4 separate regions of the Homo sapiens genome follow, and regions 2, 3 and 4 are each linked to region 1. Evidence: fine-mapped expression QTL. A gene starts in region 1. Each other region holds a variant in brackets. All regions are shown on one strand. Distances are between the middles of the regions.

Evidence for each region. PIP is the estimated chance that this variant, and not a neighbour inherited with it, causes the effect.
Region 2: its variant is the best candidate, but not a certain one, in a credible set for the expression of STK32C in whole blood (INTERVAL, PIP 0.53).
Region 3: its variant is the best candidate, but not a certain one, in a credible set for the expression of STK32C in whole blood (INTERVAL, PIP 0.55).
Region 4: its variant is the best candidate, but not a certain one, in a credible set for the expression of STK32C in sun-exposed skin (GTEx, PIP 0.84).

Annotation. Positions count from the first base shown.
Region 1 is chr10:132,303,194-132,310,888 of GRCh38, forward strand. It overlaps STK32C (serine/threonine kinase 32C), which reads right to left and starts at 4,757. Exons shown (of 12, transcript NM_173575.4): 1 at 4,379-4,757. The coding sequence starts at 4,640. RefSeq lists a silencer at 4,581-5,230 and enhancers at 5,483-6,027, 6,028-6,570.
Region 2 is chr10:132,213,855-132,221,549 of GRCh38, forward strand. The region is part of intron 10 of STK32C (serine/threonine kinase 32C); the gene reads right to left. Among named protein-coding and RNA genes, the nearest start is that of DPYSL4, 31 kb to the left of the region's middle. The variant G/A (reference allele first, on the strand shown) is at 3,502.
Region 3 is chr10:132,342,788-132,350,482 of GRCh38, forward strand. It overlaps LRRC27 (leucine rich repeat containing 27), which reads left to right. Exons shown (of 11, transcript NM_030626.3): 5 at 1,711-1,863; 6 at 5,197-5,569. Among named protein-coding and RNA genes, the nearest start is that of LRRC27, 14 kb to the left of the region's middle. The variant A/G (reference allele first, on the strand shown) is at 2,430.
Region 4 is chr10:132,240,272-132,247,966 of GRCh38, forward strand. It overlaps STK32C (serine/threonine kinase 32C), which reads right to left. Exons shown (of 12, transcript NM_173575.4): 2 at 5,629-5,684. Among named protein-coding and RNA genes, the nearest start is that of DPYSL4, 57 kb to the left of the region's middle. RefSeq lists an enhancer at 2,615-3,499. The variant C/T (reference allele first, on the strand shown) is at 4,418.

The DNA.
Region 1 (7,695 bases):
TCCTAACTGCACTCATCCTGGGAAAGAGGAGAACTAATGCGAGAAGGAGAGAGCTTTCTCACTCTCCGTCAAGCGATACTCCCTACGGGCTGCAATTTCCAACGCAAAAAGTGAAACCACAGAAGCGCTAGAAGAAAGTACAGATGCAGGTTTATGAATTAAATTATTATTAACTGTGCTGGGAAGGACTGCTGTCACATAAAGGCAAGGCCGGACGCAGCCACAAAGGCAGATGATGAATCTGACCACACACAAATTAAACACATCCATAGAGAAAAAAGCTAAGTAGCAACATTAAAAGATAAATGAGGAACGTGGGAGGGAAGCTGCTGAAGGCTCAGCCTGTGTACCAGGAAGGGCGAGAGGAACCTGCGGCTGCCATCCCACAGGACACATGCCGCTAACAAGCGCGGGCAGGCAATTCAAAAAGTGTGGAAACACGTGAAATGTGTTTAGAGCTGAATGCTCTAAACATTTAAGGTAAAAAGATGATGAACCTCATTGATAATCAAAGAAACTCAAAGCATGAGTGCCATCTTTTAATCTCTTAGACTGGCAAAGAATAGAAACATTGCTGATACCCAAAGCTGGAGAGGATTCAGGGGAAAAGGCGATCAAACCCTCCCGCTCCTGGAGCAAGTGAAAATGGGTTTTCCCTTCCCGCCAGCTCCGCTGGCAGCAGGTGGTCTGGTTCTCTCCCCTGCAGGTGCCTCCCGCCACCCACTGCACTCGCTCCTGCCTCCCTGTCTTGTCAGTCTCTCTGCTTCCCCTCTGCCCGGTTACCCCACGACAGCATGGCCCATAAACAATGCTCAGAGAGGGACCAATTGAGCGGCCACACGTGTTAAGGTATTTCACACGGACCCCTTTGCCTGAGCAATGTCGTTCCTAAAAATGTATCCTAGGGAAACAATGCCAAGTGCACAAAGATCTGCAACGATGTTCATCAATACGTCGTTTATGATATTTATAAAACAGAAACACCTCACAGTCCTGTGACAGGAAACTAAGTAAGCAGAGAAAGTCACAGCTGCTCAGGGGAGCACTGCAGAGTCGGGAATCTCAGCCTCGACTGCTGGTAAAACTCAAGAGGGGCTTAAAAAAAAAGCCTGAGCCCCTGAGCCCCACCCCCAACCCACCAAACCCCCCCAGTTCACCCACAGTTCACGGGTGTGGGGCTTGAGCATCTGCATTTTTTAAGAGTGCCCAGTGAATGACTCGGGTCCACAGCCTGGGGCTGAGAACTGTTGTAAATTCAGCCAACAAATGATGCCTCAGGTCTGGAAGAGGCTGGCAACATATCGCTGAATCAACAAGCACCTTACGGCAAATTGGCATGCAGAGCAGGATCCCACTTCTGCTAACAAAGAGAGAGTGTTTCTCCACGGCTGTACCTGGGACTGTATTTCCAGAAAAAGGCTGGGAGGTGACACCGTGATCCCAATGCTGAAGTTACAGATACCGTGGCATAAAGTATAGAATGTTTTTAAATGCATACATTTTAATGCTTTCATAATTAGGAAAAAACAAAGGTGTTTCTAATTTTAAGAGATGACTTGAGGAGTCTGGTGGCCCCTGGTCCTGCCTCACTGCCTGCCCGGCCCGGCGCCCAGGGCGGGCCGTCCACAGCCTGCAAGGGCCTGTCCACTCCAGCCTTCCCCAGATGAAGGCAAAGCCCCTCAGGGAGGAGCTACTTCCTGCTGGCGGGCTAATGCCACGTCAGGCTGGAGACTCAATGCTGTGACCCCGAGACGGGCGAGCGCCCCCCAGGTTGCAGAGCTGCTTAGCGGGAAGGTACCGGAGCCTCCTCTCAGGTTCACTTGGTATCACCAGGACACCAAGACAGAGAGGAATGAAGGGGCTCGCCCAACGCCATGCAGCTCTGGTGCAGAGCAGCAGCAGAAAGACCCCCTAACCAAGTTCAACCCCAAAAATGAATTTTTCACCGAAGTCAGAGAAGGGATAGAATGGGAGCATGTGAGGGGCTGAGGGGAAGGAAAACTGGAGACCCTCAGTTCTGGCATGACAAAGACGTGCAGAGAATTCTGTACATGCACCAAATATCTGCCAAATTAGGAAAATGGTTCTGGAGTCCACAAGGATTAAAAGGAACAGAGGACATTTAGTCTTATATGTCGCAACTATGCCTATCAGTTGAAATTTACCTGGCACTTTGTTAAACAGCACTCTTAATTTCTTTTTTCCTTTTCTCTGCATACTAAATTTGATATATTAATTAGGTGTTTTAATCTAAAAAATTCATCGGAAGGTCTAGCATTGCCATAGCAACCGTGCAGATTCAGTAAACTCGAGACACCAACACAGCACCAGGGCCTCCTTAAGCCAGTGCTGCCACGGGGCCACGAAAGTACCAGGCAAATGACTGCACCAACCTGAAAGGGGTGGGACTCAGGGGCAACAGTCCCTTCCTAAAAGACTCTCCTTTCTCCTTCCAAACTGAATCCCTTCCACCAACACGAGTCCCCGGCATCCACACTCAGAGGTGCAGAACATTCTTCTGCAAACCCTGTGCTATGACTCCCAAGTTGTCTGTGCCCTGCCAGTGACAGGAAGAAGCGGAGGGAAGCGGTCACCGCCCAGAGATGTCCTCTGCTATTCGGGCCAGGGCCTAGTCTTGCCCTCCTGATTTCACCACACAAAGCCCAGCTGAGTCCCGGCGGGTGCTCAGTTTGGGGATGTGGCTGCATACCAAGCCATACGGAGCCAGCAGCATCCGTGGGACACCGTCAGCCGAATCTCTGCCGTCCTACTACAGGCAAATACGGTGATGCTGGGGATGTGAAAGAATTCCCAAGTCAGACCGTGAGCCCCACAGACAGACTCTGTGCTTGCTCTTTTTGCCTTTCTAGTGATCCTTGAATTCTGTGACATAACACACTGTGAACACACAGGGAAGTCTACCCTACAAAGCTGAAGGCAGCCCAGTGCCACACCACTGTCTCCACTCCCACCCCCGGAGAGCACGGTGCCGAGACCCAGAAGAGCAGCCAGCTCTTGGCTGACACCAGCAAGTGCTAAACCAGATGCGTTTCTCAGACGTTCTCTCAACCCGCAGCCAGAAACGAGAGGCAAATCTGCCTCCTGATCAGCTCCTAGTTCACTCTGGGCTTTCTTTACTTTGAATATTTATGTTAAAAACAAAAACATTTCTCAAACATTCACCATCGTGAGTTCTGCTGTCCCGAAGTTCAGGACACAGTGACGGGCCACCCTGGAGCGTGTGGGGCCTGGTGTGGCTGGGCCTTCAGCCCTCCTTCTAGGCAGCACACCATGAATCCCCGGTGCCGTCTCCCGGAGGAACGGCGGTGCACGGCCCCACACTCACCAACGCCGGCCTGAGGTCGTATTACTGTAATTTCCCATAATGCTTAAATTATTTATCGCAAGTAAATAGCCTGGCTCCTGAGCGCTGGGCTCTAAAATTTTGAAGGATCCATCATACCTCTGCACGCTATCTATAAATGAAAAATGCACATTTCAAGTATTTTAAGAAAATGTCAAAAAACATGAAATGTGTCATCAATGTACGATTTTAAATGATTTGCATGTTACCTGTAGAAAAGAGCTGTATGTCTGCATGTGACTGTATTACAGTGCCCACAGGCAGACGCGGCACCACATCTCCCTGCAGGTGATAATTCGGGGGTCCCCGGGGCCCCCTGGCACCCCGGGAGGTGTCCCTGCAGGCCTGTCCCATGTCACCTCACCTGCCTTCTCTGCTTTCTATGGCGCCCACGGCTGCACGGTCACTCAGGAGACACCAGTCCCCGGGGTTGGCGGCTTTATCTACAGGACTCAGCAGCGCACTCGTTCCTGGCAGGGCAGGTCTTTGCACAACGGCCTGGCCCTGCCTCCAGCGCACATGGGTGAGCAGAGGATGGACACCGCGCGGTCACCAAGGAGACTGAGCCTCTGAGCGGCCGGGCCCCGCCACCTGTGGGGCAGGAGCCTCACTCGCACTCGGGCGGCACAGGTGAGCGCCTCTCTAACTGCAAAGTACAAACGAGCCCGCACGTGGGCCCGAGCGGATCACGGAAAGCGGAAAGCAGGGCTGCCACGGGCGGTGGGCGGAGGCGCGCGCAAGCCCGGAGACGCCACAGCCGCGGGGGACCCTCGCCCCGAGGGCCCGGGCCCAGCCTGCTCCTCCTGCGGCGCCGCCACTAGAAACGGAGGACGCGGGCGGGCGCCCAGAACTCGCGTGGGGCCGCAGCCACCCGGCGCGAGCTTCTCCGGAAGCCGGGGCGCCCCGGGAAGCCGTCCCGGACACCGGGGGAACCCCTGCGGGAAAAAGCCGCCCAGCCGCGCCCGCCCCTGCAATAGCGCGCGGCCCCCACGTCGTCCCCGTGCCCGCACTCACCGTCCTCCTTGTCGTCAAACACCGGCCTCCGCGCGGTGGCCGCCGACATGGACGAGCCCATCCTCTTCTTCCACTTGCTCCACTGAAACAGGGGGCGCGGCTGCGAGCGGACATCGCCCGAGTCCCGGGCCCGGGGCTGGCCAGCAGCGGGCGGCGGCAGGGCCGAGGGCGCGTCGGAGCCGGCGGGGCGCGCGCGGCCGGGGGGCGGCGAGCCCGGGGACGCCGCGGCGCTGCTGCCCCTGCGCTCGGCGCCACTCCTCATCGCCGGGTCTGGGTGCGCGCGGCAGCCGGAACTCGGGGCATGGCCGGCCGGCAGGGCCGGGAGCGGCAGTGGTAGCGGGAGCGCTCGGGGCCGGCAGCGCCCGCCGTGCGCTCTTCTGGGCGGTGGAACCCGCCCCGTAGATTGCGAGCGCTGGGGGCGGGGCAGGGGCGGGGCTTCTGGAAGGGGCGGGGGCGGGGCGGAGCTCCTGGAAGGGGTCGAGGCGGAGCTGAGCGCCGGGGCGTGGCAGGTGCGGAGCTTCGGGAAGGGTAGGGGCGGGGCCGAGCCGGGGGCGGGGCAGGGGCGGGGCTAGTGCCTGGAGTGTCGCTAGGGAGTGGGTGGCCGCCACCAGTCTAGGGATGGGGGCTGTGGTTCGCCGGGACACGGGGACCACGGCTCAGACTAGACGGCGGGTACGAGAGCGAGGGAGGCAGGGAGCGTCCCCACGGGTATCCTGGGGCCCCGGAGGTCGGCGTCCCTGGCACGGGGACTGCTGTGCCCGGCACGGCGGCGGGACCTTCTCGCGGTCTCCGGGGGCCTCCCTCCCCTGCCTTCTTCGTGAAAACAGCCGGCGCGCGGGCTTCCGCCGCCCAGTGCGGGGAGCCCTAAACTCCAGCCTTCTGCTTTGCGCAGGGTGAGGCCGGGCTGCAGGCCCGGGATGCGGGCGGCGGGAATCTGCCGGGCAGAGCCCGGCTCACGGTCAGGAGGCGGCAGGCTGAGTCCAAGCGCTGCGCCAGAGGGTGGGGTGGGGCAGGGCGGGCCTGGCTGCGCGCGCGCACACGCGGGCGCCTGGGGTGGGCGCTAAGCCCTGAGCACGTGCGCCCGCGCTCTCGGGCACCCCCGTGCCATCCTCGCGACCCCCGTCCGGCCTGAGACCGCGTGCCCGAGTCGCCCAGGGTCCCCTTGTCCAGATGCGACAGGGGCCTCGGCACTCGGCGTATTTCGGAGGCCTGGGGCGCGGCTTGACCTCCGGGCACCTCTGCCCCTGCGCAGGGCCAGGCGCGACCTTGCGCGGAAAGTGCTGGGCGCCTTGGAGTGCCCTGGAGAAGGCGCGGCTCTGCATGGAGCCTCGCCGCCTGCCCCTGGCGCTTGTCACTGAAGAATCAGTTTTTGCTACCGGGCTGTTTGACTTTAGGAAGCCTTTACCTCCTTAAGTTCTGCCCTGTAACCAGGACACAAAGACGGGGTCTCTTCCTCCTCGGTGAAATCCTAGATGGGATTTCCTGCTGCCCGCCCGGACGATGAGCGGATCCCCAACATGGCTCCAAGGCCAGTGTCTCCCGCTCCCGTCCCTCCCACCGCACACAACTGTCTACCCTGTCATTCAGCCACTGTGAGCCCTGCCTCCCCACGGCCTTTGACATTCAGTGTGGCCGCCCGCCCTAACCGCCTGATGCATGAAATGTGAGCACGGGAAGTCTGTGTGGCTTCTGGGCCAACAGGAGCCCCCATCCCTTGGGGACTATAAGGAATGGAACCATGCCCATCTACCTAGGACATGCACCCGCCTGGACATGCACCCGCCTGGACATGCACCCGCCTAGGACATGCACCCACCTGGACATGCACCCGCTTAGGACACATGGCATGCATTTCACTACTGAGATTTAGAGGGTATTTTTATGGCAGCATAACCTAGGTTACCTGACCAACCAGCCACCGCAGCTCTCCCTGCCTGGCTAGCACAAACGCATCGGTCTCTAACTTCCAGTGCACAGAGCCGAGTTTTCAGCCCTTGCAGCTGCGAAGCTCTGTTCCCTGCTCTCCCTCAAAGTTGCCATTCTCCAGCAGGCACGCAGAAGGCAGTGGGTTCAGCACCTGCCTCAGAGGAAGCCCTCGGTGCCCATCCCAGCAGGAGTGGTGAAGGAGCGTTTGGAAGGGGAGGTACCAAGGCAGGGCAGTGCCTGGAACCCTGCGTACCCGGTGCACACATCAGACTCCCCAGGGCTCCTCCCAAAACACGCAGCCTCTGAACTTACATCATCGCCTCTCCTCCTCTCCCTCTGACCCCTAAAAGTGGCAGAAAAGGAATAAAAGATATAACGTCCCCACCACCACCTAAGAGGGAACAGGAGAAGGGAAGACATGTTAATAGACTTCAGACAGCAGGTAGAAAGCTGACTCTGAAGATTGGAGAGGCTGAGGACCTGCAGGTAACCAGGACCCCAAAAGGCGGGAGAATGTGAATACAGCCAGAGCCCAGGACGCCTCCCCGGCCCGGGCAGTTGGGGATGGACAGTCCTCTGGTCTGAGGGTCCAAAGGGGCTCTTGACCTAGGGATACCAAGTCCTGCAGAAGACAAGAGTGCAGGGGGGCAGAGGGGTTCATGGGGACATCTGCACACTTAACTAGGAGACCCTCCAACCTCACCCTTGCTGTGAGCCTCAAACACCAAGCCAGGCACCTGCCTCTCAGTCAGGAAACAGGAAGGATCTGTAGGGAAACAGCAGCTCCCAAAAGAATGCCGGGTCCTAAGATTTGGCCAGTGCAGATCAGCCCTGGAGGGGCCTGTGGGCTCAGGGCACAACTCTTGTACTGTCCAGGTGCAACTCTTGTACTGTCCAGCCACGGCTCAGGGTCCAGGCAAACACAAGACTGAGCGTTAAGAGGTGCACAGTGTAGGCATGAGACAGGAGGGGTCAGGAACTGCTGTCCCCAAGAGGATGCCAACCCCTGGTGCCTCATGGGAGGTAGCTCTGAAGTTCTAGGGGGATGCTGGGAGGGACTGAGGCTGGGACAGAGTCAGCTGTGGATGGGAAGGGGCAGTGAGGCCAGTAGAGAATTCCTGAGTTCCCCTGTGTGCCCATGCTGCCCGGGAACGTCAACTTCATTAGGGCAGCGATGGTGTCTGCCCCTTCCAATGACAGGAGACCAAGTGACAATGTGACAGATAAATGCATTCAGTGCACTGACGTCTAGCACGCAGGAGCACACAGGAAGGCACATGGCTGGGCAGCACGTGCATGATCGTGGGACCACTTTAGCTTGGGTAGTCCAGCATGAGTCTCTGAGCAGGTGACCTTGATGCTGAGGCCGGAGCATGAACGAGTAGCCCAAG
Region 2 (7,695 bases), 89 kb before region 1:
AACACTGTAACAGAAATGAGGATGCCTTTGATGGTTCCTCAGTAGACTGGATCCAGATGAGGAAGGATCTATGAGCTTGAAGAAATGTCAACAGAAACTTCTCGAACTGAAATGCAAAGAGAAAAAAAAAAGAGTGAAAAAAATGAACAGAATATCCAAGAGCTGTGGGACAATTTCAAACGGCACCACACACGCATAATTGGATTTCCAGCAGGAGAAGAGAAAGAGAACAGAATATTTGAAATAATAATGACTGGGAATTTTCTGAAATTAATGACAGACACCAAACCACAGGATCTAAGAAGCTCAGAGAACACCAAGCAGAATGAATATTAAAAAAAAATCTGTACCTAGGCATATCATTATTCAAATTGCAGAAAACCAAAGACAGAGAAAATCTTGAAATGAGCTGGGGGTGGGGGGTGGCGAGGAATTCTACTTACAGAAAAAGAATTAGAGCAGACTGCCTGTTAGAAATCACATAAGCAAGAAGAGAGCGGAGTGAAATATTTAAAGTGTTGAAAGTAAAAAACCTACCAATCTAGAATTCTATATCCAGTGAAATTATTATTTAAAGGTGAAAGTAAAGACTTTTTTGGACAAACAAAAAGGGAAGGAATTCATCTCTGTTGGACCTGTCCTATAAGACATGTTAAACGAAGTTCCTCAGGGGAAAGGAAAATGATTTAGGTCAGCAACTTGGGTCTGCATAAAGAAAGGAAGCACTTTAGAGGAGGAATGAATAGAGGTAAAATGAAATTTTTAATTTTTCTTAATTGATCCAAAAGATAACTGTTTAAAATAACAGTAGTAACAATGTAATGAGCAATTATAGCATACAGATAAATGAAATGAATGACAGCAATGTCATCAGGAACAGGAGGATTGCACGAGAGGTGCCGTCACAAGGCATCCCACTGCACATGAGGGGGCAGAGTGTCAGGTGAAGGTAGACTGTATGGTAAAGGTATACTGCAATGTCCAGGCCAACCACTAAAAATATTTCAAAAAGAAGTATAATTAACAGGCCAGGAGAGGAGATAAACTAGAATAATATAAAATGCTTAATTAAAACCAGAAAAGGCAGAAAAATAGGGAAAAAGGAAGAACAATAAATAGACTACAGTTACAAATAAGGTAGATATCATATTGAACTATATAAATGACCACTTATTTATTTACAAGACAGCGTGTCTCTCTGTTACCCAGACTGGAGTGCAGGGGCATGATCATAGCTTACTGCAGCCTTGAACTCCTGGGCTCAAGCAATCCTACTGCCTCAGCCTCCTGCGTAGCTGGTATCACAGGTGTATCCCACCACACCCAGATAATTTTTTTTTGTAGAGACAGGGTCTCGCCATGTTGCCCAGCCTGGTCTCAAACTCCTGGACTCAAGCAATCCTCTCACGTCACTGGAACTACAGGCATGCACTGTTATGCCTGCCTAATTTTTTTGTCTTTTATAGAGCTGGTGATAAGGTTTGGCTGTCTCCCCACCCCAATCTCAGCTTGAATTGTGACTCCCACAATTCCCGTGTGTCATGGGAGGAACCCAGTGGGAGGTGATTGAATTATGGGGGCGGGTCTTTCCTGTGCTGTTGTCATGATAGTGAATGAGTCTCATGAGATCTGATGGTTTTAAAAACAAAAGTTTCCCTGCACAAGCTCTCTCTGCCATCCATGTAAGATGTGACTTGCTCCTCCTTGCCTTCCGCCATGATTGTGAGGCCTCCCCAGCCATGTGGAACTGTAAGTCCATTAAACCTTTTTCCTGTATAAATTTCCCAGTCTCGGATATGTCTTTATTAGCAGCGTGAGAACAGACTAATACAGTAAATTGGTACCAGTAAAGTAGGGCGCTGCTGAAATGATACCTGAAAATGTGGAAGCAACTTTTTAGAACTGGGTAATAGGCAGAGGCTGGAACCATCTGGAGGGCTCAGAAGAAGACAGGAAAATGTGGGAAAGTTTGGAACTTCCTAGAGACTTGTTGAATGGCTTTGACCAAAATGCTGATAATGATATGGACAATGAAGTCCAGGCTGAGCTGGTCTCAGATGGAGATGAGGAACTTGTTGGGAACTACAGCAAAGGTGGCTCTTGTTATGCTTTAAGCAAAGAGACTGGCAGCATTTTGCCCCTGCCCTAGAGATTTGTGGAACTCTGAATTTGAGAGATGATTTAGGGTATGTGGCAGAAGAAATTTCTAAGCAGCAAAGCATTCAAGAGGTGACTTGGGTGCTGTTAAAGGCATTCCATTTTAAAAAGGAAACAGCATAAAAGTTCAAAAAATTTGCAACCTGACAATGCAATAGAAAAGAAACTCCTGGCTGGGCACGGTGGCTCACGCCTGTAATCCTAGCACTTTGGGAGGTTAAGGCAGGCAGATCACCTGAGGTCAGGAGTTCAAGACCAGCCTGGCCAACATGGTGAAACCCTTCTCTACTAAAAATACAAAAATTAGCTGGGTGTGGTGGTGCGTGCCTGTAATCCCAGCTACTTGGGAGGCTGAGACAGGAGAATCACTTGAACTTAGGAAGCGGAGGTTGCAGTGGCAATGAGCCGCCATTGCACCACTGCACTCCAGCCTGGGTGACAGAGCAAGACTGTCTCAAAAAAAAAAAAAAAGAGAGAAAAAAAAGAAAACCCCATTTTCTGAGGAGAAATTTGCATAAGCAACAAGGAACTGAATATTAATCACCAAGACAATGGGGAAAATGTCTCCAGGGCATGCCACAGACCTTTGCGGCAGCCCCTACCATCACAGACTCAGAGGCCTAGGAGGAAAAAATGGTTTCATGGGCGAGGTCCAGGGTCCCTCTGCTGTGTGCAGTCTAGGGACTTGCTGCACTGCATCCCAGCTGCTCCAGCCATGACTGAAAGGGGCCAAGGTACAGCTCAGGCTGTGGCTTCAGAGGGTACAAGCCCCAAGCTGTGGCAGCTTCCATGTGGTGTTGAGCCCGCAGGTGCACAGAAGTCAAGAATTGAGGTTTGGGAGCCTCTGCCTGCATTTCAGAGGATGTATGGAAACACCTGGATGTCCAGGCAGAAGTTTGTTGCAGGGGTGGGGCCCTCATGGAGAACCTCTGCTAGGGCAATGCAGAAGGGAAATGTGGGGTTGGTGCCCCTATACAAAGTCCCCACTGGGGCACACTGCCTAGTGGAGCTCTGAGAAGAGGGCCACCATCCTCTACACCCCAGAATGGTATATCCACCAACAGCTTGCACCATGCACCTGGAAAAGCCACAGACACTCAATGCCAGCCCACGAAAGCAGCCGGGAGGAAGGCTGTACTCTGCAGAGCCACAAGGGCAGAGCTGCCTAAGACCATGGGAACCCAACTCTTGCATCAGCATGACCTGGATGTGAGAGATAGAGTCAAAGATGTTCATTTTGAAGCTTTAAGATTTGACAGGCCTGCTGGATTTCAGACTTGCATGGGGCCTGTAGCCCCTTTGTTTTGGCCAATTTCTCCCATTTGGAATGGCTGAATTTACCCA[G/A]TGCCTGTACCCCTATTGTATCTAGGAAGTCACTTGCTTTTGATTTTACAGACTCATAGGCAGAAGGGACTTACCTTGTCTCAGATGAGACATTGGACTGTGGACTTTTGAGTTAATGCCAAAATAAGACTATGGGGGACTGTTGGGAAGGCATGATTGGTTCTGAAATGTGAGGACATGAGATTTTGGAGGGGCTGGGGCAGAATGATATGGTTTGGCTCTGTCCCCATCCCAATCTCAGCTTGAATTGTGACTCCCACAATTCCCACATGTTGTGGGAGGAACCTGGTGGGAGGTGATTGAATTATGGGGGCGGGTCTTTCCTGTGCTGTTGTCATGATAGTGAATGAGTCTCATGAGATCCGATGGTTTTAAAAACAAAAGTTTCCCTGAACAAGCTCTCTCTTTGCCTGCCGCCATCCATGTAAGATGTGACTTTCTCCTCCTTGCCTTCCACGACTGTGAGGCCTCCCCAGCCATGTGGAACTGTAAATCCATTAAACCTTTTTCCTGTATAAATTACCCAGACTCAGGTATGCCTTTATTAGCAGTGTGAAAATAGACTAATACAGATGGGTCTCACCTTGTTGCCCAGGCTGGTCTCAAACTCCTGGACTCAAGCAGTCCTCTTGCCTCAGCCTCCCTGGTCGCTTTAAATGTGAATGGTCTAAAATACACCAATTAGGTCAGGCACAGTGGCTCACATCTGTAATCCCAGCATTTTGGGAGGCTGAGGTGGGAGGACTCCAAGAGTTTGAGACCAACCTGGACAACATAGTGAGACCCTGTCTCTACAACAAAATTTTTTTCAAATGAGCCAGGTGTGGTGGTGCACACCCACAGTTCCAGCCATTCTGGCAGCTGGGGCAGGGAGGATCACTTGAGCCCAGGAAGTCAAGGCTGAAGTGAGCCTTCATTGCACCACTGCACTCCAGTTTTGGTAATAAAGCAAGACCCTGTCTCTAAAAAAAAATAAAGTAAAATAAATATGCCAATTAAAATATATTGTCAGAGTAGACTAAAAAAAAGACAATAAAAATTTTAAAACATTTGGATAGACATTTCTCTAGACACAATGCCTGATAAAACACCTCAAAAGATGTTCAATATCATCAGAGAAATGCAAACCATAACCACACAATCACTGCACACTAAGATAACTATGATTTTTTAAAAAATAAACCAGACAATAACAGGACTTGGTAAATATATGGAGAAATTAGAACCCTCACACACTGCTGGTAGGGGCATAAAATGGCACACCTGCTGTAGAAAAGGGTAGGTGTTTCCTCCAAACATGAAGCACAGAGTCACATATGACCCAGCGGGTTCATGCCTAGGTATGTGCCCCCCAAAAATAAAAGTACATATCCACACAAAGACTTGTATGTGAATGTTCACAGCAGCATTATTCATGATAATGAAAAATGTTAACAAGTGGAAAGAACAAATACTCATCAACTGATGACTGGATAAAGGAAAGGTGATACATATGTGGAATATTACTCAGCCATCAACAGGAATGAAGCACTGACAGGCTACAACGTGGACGGGCCTCAAAAGCATCCTGCGAAGTGAAAGAAGCCAGCTGCAAAGACCACATAGTGTGTAACTCCACTTCCATGAAACGCCCACAACAGGCAACCCTACAGAGACGGAAAGTAGCTTCGTGGCTGCCAGGGGAGGGGAGAAGAGGGGAATGGGGCATGACTGCTAATAGGTGGGGTCTTTCTCTTACATTACATGAAAAGGTTCTAAAATCAGATTGTGGTGGAGAATGCACAGCCCTGTGACTATATTAAAAACCATGGAATTATATGCTTTACATGGATGCACTGTATATTGCATGGAATGTGAATTATATCAAAATAAAGCTGTTTCCAAAAACCTCTCTCAGCCTCAAGGTTAACAGTGGGACTTTTTTTTTGGAGTGATGCTTTCCTTTCAGAACACCTCCTACCCTCAAGCCAAAACATCTCCACACAACCAACCCAAGACAAAGCCGAGCTCCTCCCGCTCACAGGTGCCTGGCCTTACCTGTTCCCAGCCAGAGCCTCCTGGGAACTCAGCATGGCCAGCTGGGCTCTGCACACTGTCCATCCCTGAGTCTCCCATGAGGGTTCCTAACTCATCCTGGGCCTGTTTCTACACCCCAGAGCCCTGGCTCTGGACATGCTCTGGTAGGGAAAACTTAAACATCCAATGGGGGCAATGCCAAAGAACCCCCAACCCCGAGAACCTTCCAACCATCCTGTGGCTCTCAGCAGTGCCTCACAGTGGCCACCTGGCAGACAGCAGCTCTCCACCAGCAATTCTGCCTGAGGACACCCAGGGCTGCCGGCAGCCGTCCTGGAGGAGGGGCGAGGATGGGAGCCTGACCCACTGGGGGGCCGTGTTCCCCCCAAAATCAGGGCACCCAGGGCATGACCCCACCCCTGCCCCCCACATCATGGTGAGGAGGGGACTGACACCCGTCTTCTGCCCAGGAGCAACACAGGGCCCACCAGGTCTGAGGAGGCTGCACGGGGGCTGAGGCACAAGAGTTTCCCAGGACATCCACCACAGGCTCAGGCAGACTCAGGGGCAAGGGGACCACCGAGGGACCCAGGGTCATCACCGTCACCCTGACATCAACACACAACCATAGCTACTCCTTGGTGAATATCAGCCACATCCTGGTGGTATGGGCCAAACTGTGTCCCCAAAAATGACACACTCAAATTCTAATCCTGGGTACCTGTGAATGTGACCTCATTTGGAAGTGAGGTCTTTGCAGATATCATCAAGATAAGATGGGGCCATACTGGATCAGGGTGGGCCCTAAATCCAATGCCTGGTGTCCTTATGAGAAGAGGGGAGGAGATGGAGACGCACACACAGGCCGACCCCACGCGGCAGCGAAGCAGGGGCTGGGGGGATGCGTCTAGGCCAAGGCAGCCTCTACCGGAGGGTAGAGGGGCAAGGACTGGTTTTCCTCCCCGGAGAGCCTTCAGAGGGGGCACGGCTTTGCTGACATCTTAACTTTGGACTCAGGCCTCCAAGCCATGAGACAACACATTTCTTTTTAAATCTGCTGATTAAAAGGGAGCCTGTTGATGCTCTATTGTGAATATCACATTCACATGGAACACGAACCACGTCCACATTGGGAACACCACGTCCTCACATAGCAGAGGATCAAAGACTCAAAAGAGGACTAAAGTCACCCTTCTACAACAGCATTAACCCCATCCATGCTGGAAGAACCTACGTGGCCCCATCAGCCCCCAAAAGTCCCATCTCTACCACCATCACAATAGGAAGCAAATTCCAACACGAGTTTTAAGGGAAACATTTCAACCACAGCACCTGTCAAATCCCTGATGAGACCACGACCTCAGACAATATTAGCTCACACTCTGGGGAGACCCAGAAGCAGGAAACAGAGCTGCACCTGACAAGGCCACGACCTCAATGTTAGCTCACATTCTGGTGAGACCCCGAAGCAGGGAACAGAGCTGCACCATGCCTGGACTTCCGATTTACAGAAACTGAGATCATCACATAACTGCCCAAGGGGTTCACCTTACCCGCTGCCTAGACAGCCAATTATCAAGACAGGGGAGCTGCAGGAGACAGAGTAGTTCACGCACAGCCGGCTGTGAAGGAGACCATTTCATTACGACTCAGATCCATCTCAGAGAGACGCATTGCTGTTCTTCAACCACCTGATTCGTGGTCACCTGTCCTGGCAGCCCCAGAATACCAGCATGCCTGAGTGAGCATGAGGGCTTCACGTGGCCGTCCCCGCACACACAACCAAAGCCGGCACACCTGGGCGAGTGTGAGGGCTTCACGTGGCTGTCCCGGCACACACACCTGATGCTGACGCACCTGGGCTAGTCTGAGGGCTTCACGTGGCCATCCCCACACACACAACTGATGCTGACGCACCTGGGCGAGTGTGAGGGCTTCACATGGCCGTCCCCACACACACAACTGATGCTGACGCACCTGGGCGAGTGTGAGGGCTTCACATGGCCGTCCCTGCACACACAACCAAAGCCAGCACACCTGGGCTAGTCTGAGGGCTTCACGTGGCCATCCCTGCACACACTCACAACTGACATCAACGCACCTGGGTGAGTGTGAGGGCTTCACGTGGCCATCCCTGCACACACAACTAATATCAACGCACCTGGGCAAGTGTGAGGG
Region 3 (7,695 bases), 40 kb after region 1:
CCCAGGAAAAAATGTCTAAAATTCTGAAGGCATTTCTATTATGAACTTGAGAAGCATTTTGGAGAACTAATTTATGAGTACTCATTTATTTGTAAGTCACTTGCTACCATGTAGACAGTATAAAAACAGACATGTATACGCATGTATACATAAAAGTACAAACATTAAGATTGTATAGCTTTGATTTTATTTTTAGCCATGAATCAGATAAAACTCATTAGTTTAAAAGAACAGTTGAGACCACGCATAGTGGCTCATGCCTGTAATCTTAGCACCTTGGGGCGCCAAGGCAGGAGGATCCCCTGAAGCCAGGAGTTTGAAACCAGCCTGGGTAACATAGTGAGACCCCATCTCTACAAAAAATAAAATAAAATAAAATTAGCCAGGTGCAGTAGTGCATGCCTGTGTTCCTAGGTACTTAGGAGGCTGAGGCAGGAGGCTAACTTGAGCCCAGGACTTCAAGGCTGCAGTGAGCTCTGATTGCACCACTATACTCCAACCTGGACAACAGGGCGAGACCCTCTCTCTAAAAACAAAACAACAACAACAACAAAAAACAAAAATAAAAGAACAGTTAGGTTAAATTGTGCCTTTGTAAATGGAACGAGTTATGGCTGGAACCCTTACACAGTTTTAGAGAAAACAGAATAGCAAATTTACACTTCAAAGAACAGAGAGAGAATTTAAGCTTTTTAAAGAAGGAGTTTGGGTGTGTTTGAAGACTAAAAATGGATGACAAGATAATACAGAGTCACTTGCCACAGGATTTGATAAGGAAACGAATTTCATTTAGATAGGTAGCTTCTAGTTTAGTCTCTGTTTTCCAACTGGACCAGTGAGCTCAGGGCAGAGCCCATTAATGGACAGGGCCAACAAGGCATTTGCAGTTTGTAGAGCCTAATACTTAACCTACATGTGAAAAGCGAGCGCGGCTGAAAGGTGGGACACCCAAATACCCAAAATCCAAGCATCCATCTTTCACACTGAACCCTGGCTCCCTCAGATTGGGAAACGCCACAGGACTAGGGCCCCTGCAGTGCTTCCCCGTGCTCCTCATTCCGGGGACTTCGCCCTGAGCCTGGGGAGTGAGCCAGCCCCCACCAGCCCACTGCCCACCACGGGAGCCTTACCTCTCAGCGGCCATCGTTTCCAAAGCCTCCAAGTTCACATAATTTCCATTTTTAGTGACATTTCACATTTGTGGAGTCCTTGTATTCTATTTTCTTCTAATTAAACACAATTTTCTTCATTTGCTTGAACATATTTAAATGGTTGCTTTGAAGTCTTTGTTAAACCCAACATCTGGGCCTCCTCCAAGACAGTTTCCATTGTCTGCTCCGTTCCTGAGTGTAGGGTACATTTTCCTTTTCTTTGCATGTCTGGTAGTTTTTATGTGGAAAATGGGCATTTTAGATAATATAGCGACTTTGTATTCTGAATTTTACAGAATTGTGAAGGTGGTTGTGGCTGCTTCTGTTTGTTTGATTTTATTTATTTGTTTTTTGGAAACCATCCTGGTCTTAATTTGCGGAATCCGTCTCCTGCAGAGTTACCTTTAAAGCAAATCTTTGACATCTGTTAACGTGATTTTCCCCCAAATACTGAATAGAATCATATTTTAAAATGTGAAAAGTTACTATTATTTATTCCTCATTTTCATTTCAAGAATGGTATATAGAATGCTGACAGTTTTTTTTTCCTCCACTGCAGGGAGCGTAACCACGCTGAAAGCACTGAACCTAAGACACTGCCCTCTGGAATTCCCTCCTCAGCTCGTTGTGCAGAAGGGATTGGTGGCTATCCAGCGCTTCCTGCGGATGTGGGCAGTAGAACACTCTCTCCCCAGAAATCCAACTTCTCAAGGTTTGTAGGAGGTGATTTATGACAAATCACATTAACGTTGAAGTTACAGCTTTTTAAAATCAGGGCAGAACCTGTCTTCTCTTTAATAACATCCTGAGAAATACAGGAGCCATGGGTCCTCTGCTGAGTTGACACAGTGTACACTGATCTCAGGCCGACCCAGTCATCTCTGTGACTTTTCCTTGGTTCTATAAATCTGGGCACATTATAGATCCTGGCTCAAGTGGATTTTGGTAGAAGTTTATTGTGATCAATCAAATGAAACAGTTATCACCTCCAAGCCACCCGCAGGCGGCTGCTTCAGGAATGACTTGATGCTGCATTAGGCAGCTATTTTAAAATAAGTACAATGAAATATTCCTTATTCCTAACGAGGTACAAGAAATTAGCAGGAAAATGGCCCTGTAGACATGTTTTATCTAATCACCTTGTTGGTGGGTGCTCACTAACCTGTTCCATTCTTTCAACATACTGACCAGCCAGGTATTTTCAGATGCTCATGATGTGTTCTGGTCTTGAGTACGCATTGTAGTTACACTTGGAAAAGGTAAAGTTAAATTGGGATA[A/G]AGGAGAATCATAATGAAGCCTTGCCAAAAAAAGTACATATTCTGAAATATTGTCAGAATATTTAAAATTTTACTATTTGTGATGTACTTTGATACTTAAGAAAAATGCATGTTTGGAACATTAGCCAAGGTGATTATAGATGTGCTGCAATTGAAATGTGTGGGTTAGGTCTTCGTAAATAACGTGTGGCCTTGCACTTTTGACCCAGATGGACTCTATTTGGAAATTGTTTTAAATGATTAAGAGTCAGCTGTTGGCCCTGTGCTTGCTGAGTTGTTTGTAGACATATTTTAACCAGGTTATAGTGGCTGCATTGGGGCATTGCGCTGAAGCCGCCTGGCTGTGGCACCCTTGACCCCGATGCTGCCAGGATGTTGTGATAAAAATAGGAAAAGAAAAGTAGCCGCTGGACTGGCAGTGTGGAGGGCACTGGGCACCTGGCAGGAGTGGGGGCAGGTAGCTGAGGGCATGGGGTGGCCGAGGAGAGATAGGACCAGGACCTGGAGACAGCTGGGACAAGGATGGAGGGGCAGAACCGTCAGGCACAGCCGGAGCCAGGACACAGGGAGCACAGGAGACACGGACAGACCCTGCTGGAGGATCAGGATAAAAAAGAGGAGAAGTTGAAGGTTCATTCCAGTTGAAGGAGACTAAAGGAATAGGAAACTGGATGTGATGCTTCATCCTGGATTGGATCCTGGGCCAGGACAAATATGATAAAGGACATTACTGGGACAGTTATCAAGGTGTGAGGAAGGCCAGCCAGTAAATGACAGAAGTCAGCGATGGGACGCTCCTGGTTTTGGTGAATCGCTATGGCGATGTGTGAGCATCTCCATCTGAGGGTGGAGGGGCAGGATGTCTGAAGTTACCCTTGAGTGTTTTAGGAAATGCATGAGCACCCCAGACAGAGAGGCGAGGGCGGGTAGGCTCATGGGGGCAGCAGCCTCGGGGGCCAGGCACCAGCGGCTGCTGATGGGGTGCGGGGTCCATCAACTTCTCAGCGGTGTTATTGCAACTTTTCTGTAAGTTTGAAAAAAATACATTAAGTAACTGGTCAAAAATAAGTATTTTCTGACTCTTTTCTATTAGGTTTTAGGGCCACATAGAGTGATTTTTCAGCTACTATGTATATTTTTAGTACTTTGTCCTTTCAATTACTTTAAAAAGTCTTTGCTGGCGGGCGTGGTGGCTCACGCCTGTGATCCCAGCACTTTGGGAGGCCGAGGCGGGCGGATCACGAGGTCAGGAGATTGAGACCATCCTGGCTAACATGGTGAAACCCTGTCTCTACTAAAAATACAAAAAATTAGTTGGGCGTGGTCGTGGGCACCTGTAGTCCCAGCTACTTGGGAGGCTGAGGCAGGAGAATGGTGTGAACCCGGGAGGCGGAGCCAAGATGGTGTCACTGCACTCCAGCCTGGATGACAGAGCGAGATTCCGTCTTAAAAAAATAAATAAATAAATAAAAGTCTTTTTGCTGTATCCCACTCTTCCTGTTTGCTTTCATTTTCATGAATTTCAGTTTTGTCCCTGGCCCTAAATCAGTTGTCCACAGGCAGATTGGTCAAATATGCATGTTTCTAGTCACTTGTACCCCAGGGGGAATTTTACAACTTCTTAGGACGTTTTGAAGCATGTTTGCCCATTTTTTAAAACTTTTCCTTTCAAACCTAAGACCCTGAGCACGCAGCAGTCAGGAGCATGTGGCAGCCAGGGGCGTGATGTCCATGCGCCTGTGTCCACTGCGACGGCCACCTGGGGTCTCACTCAGCCTTCAGGTCGTGCTGGGCACGTGCTGGGAGAAGACTGGCCAATAGGTCCCAGTGGCTCCCAAAGTGCCTGGAGTGCCTCTCTGAGGTCGTGTTTTGAGAAAGTCAACAAAAGCATCACCAAACAAGAAAAGCAGGCATAATGGGCTAAACATTACTTAGAAACAAAGATTCTAAGTGATCTGAGGGGAAGCAGAAATGTTGATTAAATGTGGCAAGATTGCCCTGTGTACACATGCAAAAAGTCCCTCCAAAGTGGTAAGGCCTATGTGGGAAGGTCAGGCGCGCCCGGTGGGGCCTGTGTGAGAGGGTCAGGCGTGCTCAGTGGGGCCTGTGTGGGAAGGTCACGCGTGTCCGGTGGGGCCCGTGTGGGAAGGTCAGGTGTGTCTGGTGGGGCCTCTGTGGGAAGGTCAGGCGTGTCTCATGGGGCCTGTGTAGGAAGGTCAGGCGTGCTCAGTGGGGCTTGTGTGGGAAGGTCACATGTGTCCTGTGGGGCTTGTGTGGGAAGGTCACGCATGTCCAGTGGGGCCTGCATGGGAAGGTCAGGTGCACCCAGTGGGGCCTGCGTGAGAGTCAGGTGTGCTCGGTGGGGCCTGCGTGGGAGGGTCAGGTGCTCCCAGTGGGGCCTGCATCAAAGTCAGATGTGCTCAGTGGGGCCTGGTGGGGCCTGCAGGGGAGGGTCAGGTGCGCCCGGTGGTGCCTGCGGGGAGGGTCAGGTGCGCCTGGTGGGGCCTGTGTGGGAGAGTCCAGGTGTGCTTCTGGCAGTGTTGTTTCCATTCCCTCCATGTGGAACTGCTTTGTGTGCCGCAGCAGGCTGGCGTGGTGCAGGTGGCAGGTGGGGTGACGGGAATTGTTTGGATTGACAGGGAACGTGGCAGCCATGGAGGATCTGGGCACCCCACCCCCCACCATCCAGGCCGTCACTGGCTTTTTGAATAAGTCACAGAGGGATGGCGTTGATGGTAGCTACTAAAGCGGTTTCTTACTCTCCCAGAGGCTCCACCGGTTAGAGAGATGACCCTCCGTGACCTCCCGAGCCCAGGACTGGAGTTGTCTGGAGACCACGCGTCTAACCAAGGAGCTGTGAACGCTCAGGACCCAGAGGGGGCTGTGATGAAAGAGAAGGCCAGCTTTCTCCCACCTGTGGAAAAGCCAGACCTGAGTGAACTCAGGAAGTCTGCGGACTCCTCAGAGAACTGGCCCAGCGAGGAGGAGATCAGGCGCTTTTGGAAGCTGAGGCAGGAGATTGTTGAGCACGTGAAGGCAGACGTTCTGGGAGATCAGCTCTTGACGAGGGAATTACCTCCAAATCTCAAGGCGGCCTTGAACATTGAGAAAGAACTACCAAAGCCAAGACACGTTTTCAGGTAAAACTGAAAAGCAACGGGGGATTTTCTTGATCTTTGCGAATTTATACAGTTATTTTAAATTATCTTTGAAAACATCAGGTCCAGCTTTTAAAGTGTCCTCCACGTTGCCACCGTTTACTGTGCAGTGAGTGCCGGTCCCAGGTTTAGGGTAACGGGGACCCGCATCAAGCCCGGAGCATCTGCGGCAGAGCTCAGTCCATTCAGAGGCTGAGTTTGCCAAGGTTGAGGATACGCCCGGGGAAAAGAGACATAAGCGACAGTGAGATCTGTGGCCTGTGCTTTCTCCAGAGAGAGCTTTGAGGATGTCAGCATTTAAAGGAGAAAGAATGGGCAGCAGGGAAAGGAGGAAAGAACAGTAAAAGTGGGGGCAGGCAGTGAGCCAAGTGGGCACATTCTTGTGAGGCTTCGATCAGTGCTCACTGAATCCACATTTTACCTGTGAAAAGAGAGGAGTTGGGGGAAAGGTCAGTTATGCAGAAAATAAATGGCAGCTGCCTGGGGACAAAAGGAAGGCAGTCATTGTGTGGCCCACTTCCAAAGCTTGCCTTTGCCTTTGGTACAGTGAGTTTGGGGGCCGAGATTTTATTTTCCTTTCACACCCAGGACAAGGGTCCCTAGGAAACAGGCTCTGCAGAGACTACATGAGAGAAAAACTCGAATCATGGGCGTGGTAGGGCGTGCGCCTACACATATGGGAGGTATGTATCTGTGGTGTGCGTGTGTGTGCCTGCATGTGGTGTGTGTGCCTGTGTGTGTGTAAACATCTAGAGAGAGAATGCTGCAAAATAACAATTGGTGAATCTAGATCATGCATTCTCAAGGGGCACATTGTCATAGCCGAGGGGACAACAATGGCTTCCTGGGGGTGAAGATTCTTGGAGGCCGCAGTGGTCTGTGGTCCCTCAGGCTCCACGCAGCGTCCAGCACGAGCAGGTTCACAGTGGCACCAGACCTTCCCGGAGGTGTTGGCATGAAGCGCTCATGGCCCTGATCTTTCAGCTGTCCTGTAGGTTTGAACATTCAAAACAGAACAAAACAAACCTTGGAAGCATCACTAAAAGATTAAAGGGTAGGATGTCCTAGCAGCACACACAGCAGGTTCCCAGCTACAGCGAGGCCTCGGACGCTCCAGCACGCTTGTGGTGTTCTTAGTCCACACAGTCGCACGGTGAAAGGGCAGGAATATCCTGAGCCTGCTGCTTAGAAACCTCTTTTCTTCCCTCCTCCCTTCAAATATTTATTTATTGTTAGGGACCCTAATAATAGCTAATCCAAGTGAATTGTGGTATGCTTATTAATCGTACTTATAATTTGATCAATATGTCAGATTTGGATACTAGACCCTAGCCTTCGGAGATTGCTTTGGGTGGCTTGGGAAGTTGGAGCAGAGAACTGGAGTCTCTGGCAGGAAGCCTCAACCTGGAGCCCCTGCCCCATGGTTGGGTGGGCCCTGAGTGTTGTCTTCCCCCTCTGCTGCCTCTGCCCAGGGTGAGCCATAGAGAACCACTCTGTGCCTCAGCTTTCCCACGGGGTGGTTGTGGTCTCACATGCATTATCAGGGCCTCAGTTTCCCCACTTGGTCAGGTTGTCGTGGGGTCACAGGTATTAAGAAGAAGCTCTAAGATTATGGCCCTGGTCTGCGCTCAGGGTGGTGGCCCTTCCTGAGGGTCTGGGACTCGGGAAGCTGGTGCTCCTCTGTGTTCTCTGGCCAGGGAGCAGTGGGCATGGTGAGAGCAGCAGGCCCGGTCCAAGGTGACTCGTGTGGCCTGGGCCTGCTTATAAGGCTGAGTGCTCATGTCCAAAATACTTGCAAGAAAAGTGATGTTATGTAAAAATCATAGGTAAATAATGGTCTGGTCCTGAAATCCCAAAATTATATTGGGAGGGAATCAAAGCATTCTGAAGTCATCAAACATGGAGCTGGAGTACGACGGAGCATCACTGCCCCAGCCTGATTCTGACGTCCAGCAGGCCTTCCTCTGGGGCAGCTCCTCCATACCCCTCAGGACCCTGAGACCACAAGGGGAAGCCTGGTGTTCCATAGAGCCTGGGCCACCTGCCCTTCCAAAAGCAGCAGGTTAAAGGCCAGTGCCCAGCACGCACCCCAGGTGACCCCTGTCCCA
Region 4 (7,695 bases), 63 kb before region 1:
GAGGAACCCTCAGAACCAGCTCCTCCCGGCGTGGACTCAGAGGCCACAGGCTCAGCCACGGTGTCACAGTCACACATGGCAGGGTGGTCCTACAGCAGCCGCTGGCGGGTTGCCATAGCGACCACAGGCACTGTCTTCTCGCTGAGACGGCACAGGGGGCCCAGGTAAGGTGGAATCCAGAGGCCACGTACACAGGCCCTGCACGGGGGCATGGAGCTGGGGAGCCCGGCCAGGCAGACCTTCTTCACCCACAAACATGCTCATCCTCTTCTTGCCTCTCTGTTGGGTCCATCTGAGATGTGGGGTCACTGCAAGGACAGGCGGTTCCTCGGGGTGGGTGGGGGCTGTGGTGAAGGCCTTTTGACCTGTTTTCTTAGTTATTTCCCCACAGCCTGGGAAATGCGGACGCCGTGCGCCTGTGCTTCTCTCTCTCTCCCTCGGACAGGGGGATGGCCTGGGGTGAGGGGTGCGCAGGGCAGGGCGAGGAGCCCAGCCAGCCAGGGGGGTTAGAGAGGAGAGGGCAGAGACCCACTTAGGGTCAAGGGGCGGGGCTGCACCCAACTGTGCCCACTGCCCAACAGCCAGCCGTGCCACCGAGAAATCCATCTGGGCAAGGGGCTCTCGAACCCCCAAAGGGGCACCACACCCCTAGAGACACGCCTCTGCCTCCTGATAGCTGTGCCCATCAGACACCGTCAAGCTGGCGTCCTGGTGCTCCCTGCAGCATTCTGGCCGAGTGGAAATCCGGCCTCTGCCCCTACAGAAGTCAACGGGAACACACGATCTCCCAGCACTTAGCACTCACACCCCAAACACTCCTAGTTAAGTGAGGGCCTGGCTGTTATTCCCAGGAGCACCAGCCACAGCTTGGCAAAGCCAAACCCGACCCTCCACCCACACCTGCTGCCCAGGCTGGGTGCAAGAGCCACACGCCCAGCCCACCCAACTCCTCCAGCCAGAAGCACAGCCGTGGCTCCAAAGAGGCATCCAAAGAGGACGCCGACTGCCCCTTTGACAGCTGCGGGAAGGCAGGGCTCAGGGCCAGGCAGTGGCTCAACGACAAGGTCGACAATTTAACACTGGGAAAAGTTAGAAAATAAAGTCTGTTAGTCACGGCAGCAAAAAGTTCCACGTAACAACATGACATAGAATAACCATAGGAACGACGTATCATCAACGGAACAAAATGTGAAGAATCAAGATGAAAAAGCAGACGCCTATTTGGGTAAAAGACACTAGACCCCTAGATGGGTAAGATCTCAACTTTGCTCTCAATTAATCTGAAAACGTAACTCCTATCCAAATCCCAGCGGGGTTACTTTCGACCTTGACAAGACGTATTCAGAAGTCCGTGTGGAAAAATAAACACGAAGGAAGAGCCGGCATTTTTGGCAGAGTGTAGAAGAGGCTCCAGAACACTGCGGACTCACTGGTCAGCGAACCCTTCATTCAGGGGACAGAGCGGGAAGCCCAGAGAGAGGCCTGCACCCTCGACGGGCTGTCCACAAGCAGCTCCAGACCTCAAGCCCGCCAACTTAAAAGTGCTGAATTCCAGCCACGAGCAGCGGCTCACAGCTGTAATCCCAGGACTTTGGGAGGCTGAGGTGGGCAGATCTCTTGAGGTCACGAGTTTGAGACCAGCCTGGAGAACATAGCGAAACCCTGTCTCTACTAAAAATACAAAAAAAATTAGCTGAGCATGGTGGCACACGCCTGTAGTCCCAGCTACTCAGGAGGCTGAGGAATGAGAATCACTTGAACCTGGGAGGTGGATGTCGCAGTGAGCCGAGATCACGCCACTGCACTTTAGCCTGGGTGACACAGTGAGACCCTGACTGAAAAAATGCTGAATTCCAGATGGACTCCATTCTCCCCAGAACAGAACGTTTCTTGCCCTGATCGTGAATGAGGCAGTGCTGGGTGCAGACGGCCTTCAAGCATGTATGGGGGCCAGGGGCTGGTGTCCTCTGAGAGGGGCCATGAGCTGGGAGCTGCTGGGAGGAGGGCGGCTGAAGGCACCCAGGACACGGGACGAGTGGGGGGAGTGCAGCAGGAGGACGGAAGGGCACGGGTGGTGAAGGGGCTCCGACGGCACCAGTAAACTCTGCGTTGTTGACTGTTTGGAGCAGAAACCACTGGAAAACAGCACCTGAGGTTGGGGGGGCTCTCTCCAAACTCCCCTCATCTGCCTAAAGACAGACACTCCAAGAGGAACTGCCAGCACAGCCCCCCTGCAGTTCCAGCGGCCCAGGAAGAGGGACCCTCCCCCGGGAGAGGGGCCAGGATCCACCCCCGCCTCAGGCTCAGTCACAAACCATCACAGCCCCCGCTGCTTCTCCGAGGGCCCTGTAGTCTCCCCAAAAGCTGTGTGCCCCCCATGCGGCCCCCCGCGCCCCCTTCTCCCAGCCTGCACATCAGCCCTTGGGGCCCACCACTGTTTTGGGTGTTTTCTTTTTCCCCCACGATGCCCTGCACACGTAACACTAATAATAAATTCGTATGCTTTTCCTCCTGCCCCTGTGCCTACTGTCAGCACGTTTCACAGACCTGGCTCTCAGCCTCAGAAGGCAGCCAGAGGGGCGGCTCCTCCATGGCACGTTTGGTTTGGGAAACCTGGGCCCAAAGAACAGGAAAACGCTGTACCCCCACCCAGGGGAACCACAGACCGGAAAGGTCAATGGCTTTTAAGAGATGCGTGTCCAGAGATGGGGCCCACCTTACAGGCCAGAGGGGCCGGGGCTCGGCATGGGCTTGGGGTTCATGCCCAGCCCAACCTGCACTGGTCTGCACCCCCCAGCCAAGCCTGGTCCCAGAGAGACCCTGGGGCAGCGACCTCCCCTCATCCCTGGGGCAGCTGCATCCAAGCCACCCACCCACCAGCTCACAGGAGGATGCAGGAATGGGGCTGCCCCCATCTGTGGCTCCTGGGATCATGGCCCTCAGCCTGAGATATCCACAGCCCAAGGCTGGAATGCGATGTCCTGGATTCTGAACAAGCACAATTAGGCAGCGCTGGGGAGGTGGCGAGCCTCTCAGACACCGCAGCCTCTGGAACCCCGGCTGGACGCTGAGGAGGCAGCAGGCTTCTAATCACACTGAGCAGCCTGGGGGCGAGGCGGGGGTGGAGAGTGGGCTGGACGGAAGTCTATGCCGGGTAAGGGGGCAGGCAGGGGCGGAGGGCAGGCTGGACGAATGTCCATGGCAGGGAGAAACAGATTTTCTCCAAGTCTAGATTCCTCCCTGCTAAGTGGTTAGTCCTGGAATTAACTACCGCCACCACTTTCAGCCGGACAGAACCGGGGGCACCATGTACTTCATGCCTCAAAGCTGTCTTCAAAACAGTGAAAATGGTAAATTTGTTATGTGTAATTCACTGTAATTTTTTAAAAACTGAAAACAAAAACAAAAGCCAAGGGCCAGGTCTAGATAATCCATTTCCGAGAGCGGCGGCCCCGAGGGTGGAGCCATGGCCCTGGTGGTAGAGCAGCTGCACCAGGGCCATTTGGCAGGACCCGACTCTACCCGGTCAGACTCTAAATGCTGCGCCGCCCTGAACGGGTGGGCTCCGGTGCTCTGCCAGGGGATCCCACCCCTCAACCCGGAGCCATTTTCACAGGTGGCTCAAACACTGGCAGGGCTTGGGCACAGCTGAGCCTGGGCCCACCACCACCTGCAGGGAAACAGGGGTGGCTGGGGCCCCTGCTGCTGCAGCCCCTCTGAACTGAGGCCACATGTGAGCAGACACAGCTACAGCCCAACCACACGCAGAACCACCCTTCTCAGCCCTCATCCTTCCTGCCATGGGGTCATTGCCTTGGCCAGTGAAAGAGCTGGAAGGACCCCTCCAGGTCAGTGACAGGCCTCACCTCACCCTCCCCTCAGTGCCAGGCACCCATCAACAAGCGCCGCACAGAACCCCTGCAGGCCTGATGAGGAGGCCTAACTGTGAGCCGGAAGGAACCCTCCAGGTGCACGACTACCCCGCATCTGAACACGGCACCCAGCAGCTCGCTCCTGTTCCCCGCATTCCACAGCCGCCCATTTCTGGGCCAGCTGGCGTTTCCGAGCCTCTTAAGGACTGGTCCAAGGAGTAGAACCCTGGCAGTCTACAGATGGTGGGCAGGGCTGAGGCTGCCCACCTGTGCTCATGAGAAGGAGGGGACCATCCCCAGGCAGGAGTGCAGGGCCAGCAGAGGCGGGGGCAACAGGGGCAATGGGGAGATGCTGGGGGCCCCAGGAAACAGCACCTGCACCCGCCAGCCTCGCTCCCCAGGGCAGGTCTCTGCCCCTCAGATGCCCTCGGCCTGGCCCTCTCCAGACATGCTGGCCGGGCCCAGGCTTCCCAACCTCCCTCCTTGAACCTGATTTCTGGATGCCTGGTGACTCCCAGGGTCCCCCTAAGCCACCTCTCCTGAAC[C/T]TGGTCACAGCTGCCGTCCTCCGCTGCCAGAGGGGAGCAGTCCCCCAAAACTCCATCCTGCCTGCCCCTCGTGCACCCGCTGTGGGCCTGGGAAACAGAACTTAGGCTCAGCTGGGAGGACAGGAGGGTCTGAGTCAGTCCCAACAGCCCTGAGCGTCTCTGACGAACTCCGCCAGCTTCAGCACCTCACCTCGATGGTCAACCAGCCTCACCAGCAACAAAACGGTGCAGGTCCACGGGCGCCTCCCAACATGCAGGGACTCAAAAGCACTCTCTTCTTGGTGCACGGGAGCTTTCTCAATGCACTGCGCAAAGGGGCTCATTTGCTCTGACTTTTCATCATCCCAGGCCTCAAGTAACCCAGTGGAGCCATCGTTTGCTATACAATGAAATGGAGGTAATTAATCGCATTCAAATACCCTACGTATTATGCTCCGGTAGCATGGCAATCGCTTTAAAAAGGGCTTATGGGGCTTAAATAGACACAGTGTCCAGGCAGCTGTACAGCCAGGAGCAGGAGGGAGGCAGCACCCATCTGCTAAGCCTCCCGGGACAGCTGAAAAGAACTGTCCATTCAGAAGTGATTCATCCACAACAGAGCTGCGCGCAGAAGCCGGAGGGCTAATTCCAACCTTTTCCGAGTGCTCGTTAAGCCTCTTTGAGTTATAATTACCCCCAATCTCTAGATATTACAAGGCGGCAATCAGGAAGTTAGATCTGGTCAAGAGAAAACAAAAGGAGAGTAAAGGAACGGGCTCCGTCCAGGCCGGCAAACAGGCCTATCTGGAGGACAGCAGCAGGGCACTCTGGACGGGGCTGGAGACAGGGATAAGGATGAGGACAAGGACCAGCTGAGGATGCACGCTCAGCACCCACCCTCCGTCCTGTCCCCTGTAGGTCCTGAGGAGCAGCCGCAGGCACAGCCTGGCCTCTAGGCTCCAGTTCAGCCAAAGCTGCGATTTTGTCCTCCTGGTGGCTCCTGGACGCTGCGGAGTTGGTGACACCATGGGGCCCAGTCTGATGGCGGCACAGCCAGCTGCCTCCGTGGCAGGAGTGCCCACGTCCTCCCTAAAAGACCTGGAGCCTCTGCCCAGGTAAGGCTGCTTCTCCCAAGGAGGATGGGAGTAGGTGGGCTCAGGGGACAGCATGTCCGACTCCACGGTTCTGCCCCTGCCCCCTCAGCCCAGTCCCCACCCCAGGCCCTGCCTTACCTTGCCAAAGCTGCCCTTCCCAATGGCCCGAAGGATCTGGAAGTGGTCGAAGTTCACTGCAGGATAAAACAGAGGGACACCTGGTGAGGTGGCAGCAAGGCCCCACCCCAGAGCAGCTCCCCCACCTCAACATCCCCCACCCCGACACTGCCCAGGGCCCCTCATCCTAGAAGAGGGTCGCCGTGGGGCGGGCCAAACTCTCGCTCCTGTGCGAGGCAGGAGGGGGCTGAGCCCCGGTCAGTGAAGACATGGGCCTTGGGTCTTGCACGTCCTACTCCCAGGATTGCTATGGGATTAGGCATGTGCTCAGCCACAGCATGGATGGGGCAAGAATGAACCACACACACCTGAGTCCCAGACTCGACTGGGCTGTCTTCCCAGGCACCAGCCACCCCCACTGAAAGCTGCTCCATCCAGTGAAGACCCCCAGACAGGCAGGCCTGGGGTTTTGGGGGAAGCCATGCACACATGAGCAGCTGTTCCTGGTTCCCCTCCACCCTGCTCCGCGTCTCCAGAGGACAGGGGTGTCAGCCCTGCTGGCACTCACTGGGCAAGCCTGGGGGAGTCTGCAAACGGCCCCAAGATGAACAACGAGAGGCGGCTCAGGGCTGTGGCTATGTCCACCATGACCTGTGTAGCCTGGGAGAGCCTGCGCCCAGCATGAGAGCCGTTCCGCAAGCCTGTGCGAAGCTGCAGAAGGCACCATTTCCCACACCTGCAAGTCCCTCCGGGAGAAGGACGGCTCCCCTAATTGTCACTCGTGAGACCTGTCCGTGTGCCCTATTCACACCAAGGAAAGGGATTCTGATGGGCTTTCCAGACCGTCTGCACTTGCCTTTCAAACCCAGGACATTCTCCGTACACATAAGACGGGGGTCCCACAATGTCACCCCCTGGCCTCCAGGACGAGCCCCTCCAGATGACTCCCAGGCCAGCAGCTGCCTCCACTTGTGTCCCCAGGCCTGTGTCCCCAATTCTGCACCCCTAAGTCCGTGTCCCCAGGTCTGCACCCCTCAGTGTGCTGTATCCATGAAGGGCCAGCACTGTGCCCTGAAGCCAGGTTTAGGACACCCGCTGGTTCATGACATTTCACCTATTTACCCACTTTTACCCCAGCCTCATGTTCACTTATTCTCTGGGGAATTCGACAGCTGGAACAACCCCCTACACACATGGTTATTCTAAAGGCAGGGAAGACACAGCCAAGGCCAGAGGCAGACCCGGGGAGACAGCAGGGTAGGTACTGACCCCTCCTGGGAGGCACGGCCTAGAGTCTCATCTCCACTGCTCCCTGGCGGTACCCTGTGCCGTCTGGTGGGGCAAGTGCTTTAGGCACTCAGTGTGTGGAGGAGGAGACAGAACAGTTTCTAGACGAAAGGTTTCTTTGCATTTTCCTCTGAACTGGAAAATGCCCACTCCCTTCCCAGGGCACCCCAGGATAGCCCCAGGTTTCAGCATAGACGCAGCAGGCAAAGTGTCCATCCTCATGGGCCCTGGGGACAGAGTCACACACCCAGAATTCTTTCAGCCTGAGCTACGGGTGCCGTGACAAGGACCCACGGAGGCTTCAGGGCTCCGAGCACAGGGCAGAGCTGGCCTGAAGGCGCAGGGTGGCATCCTGGGGAGAGGACGCCTGTGCTGGGCCCTCCAGGACAAGTAGGCATCAGCTGGGGGAAGGGAGGGGGTGCCTAGGTGAGGGGCCAGCCTGGGCACAGGCAGGAAAAGGACCCCAAGGGTATGGACAGACCCACAAGCTGGTCCTGGGTGAAGTGGGAGGGCAGTCAGCAGAGCACCTGGGGGTGAGGAAGGGGCTGTGACCTGTGGCCTTGGTCTCCTCTGCACAAGACGGTAGTGGGGCTTGACTCGCAGAGGTGGGGAGAGCGGTTTGATTTAAGCGCCTTAGAAAGGCACTCCCCACTGCAAGTGACCAGAGGGGCACTGACTGGCACAGGAGGTTGGGACCAAGTTGACGGAGGGGGTGGGGCTTCAAGGGGTGAGAGAAGAGGCTGCCAGGCATCAGAGCTGGGCACTGGGCAGAAAGGCCGCAGAGGACGGGCCGTGCTGCAC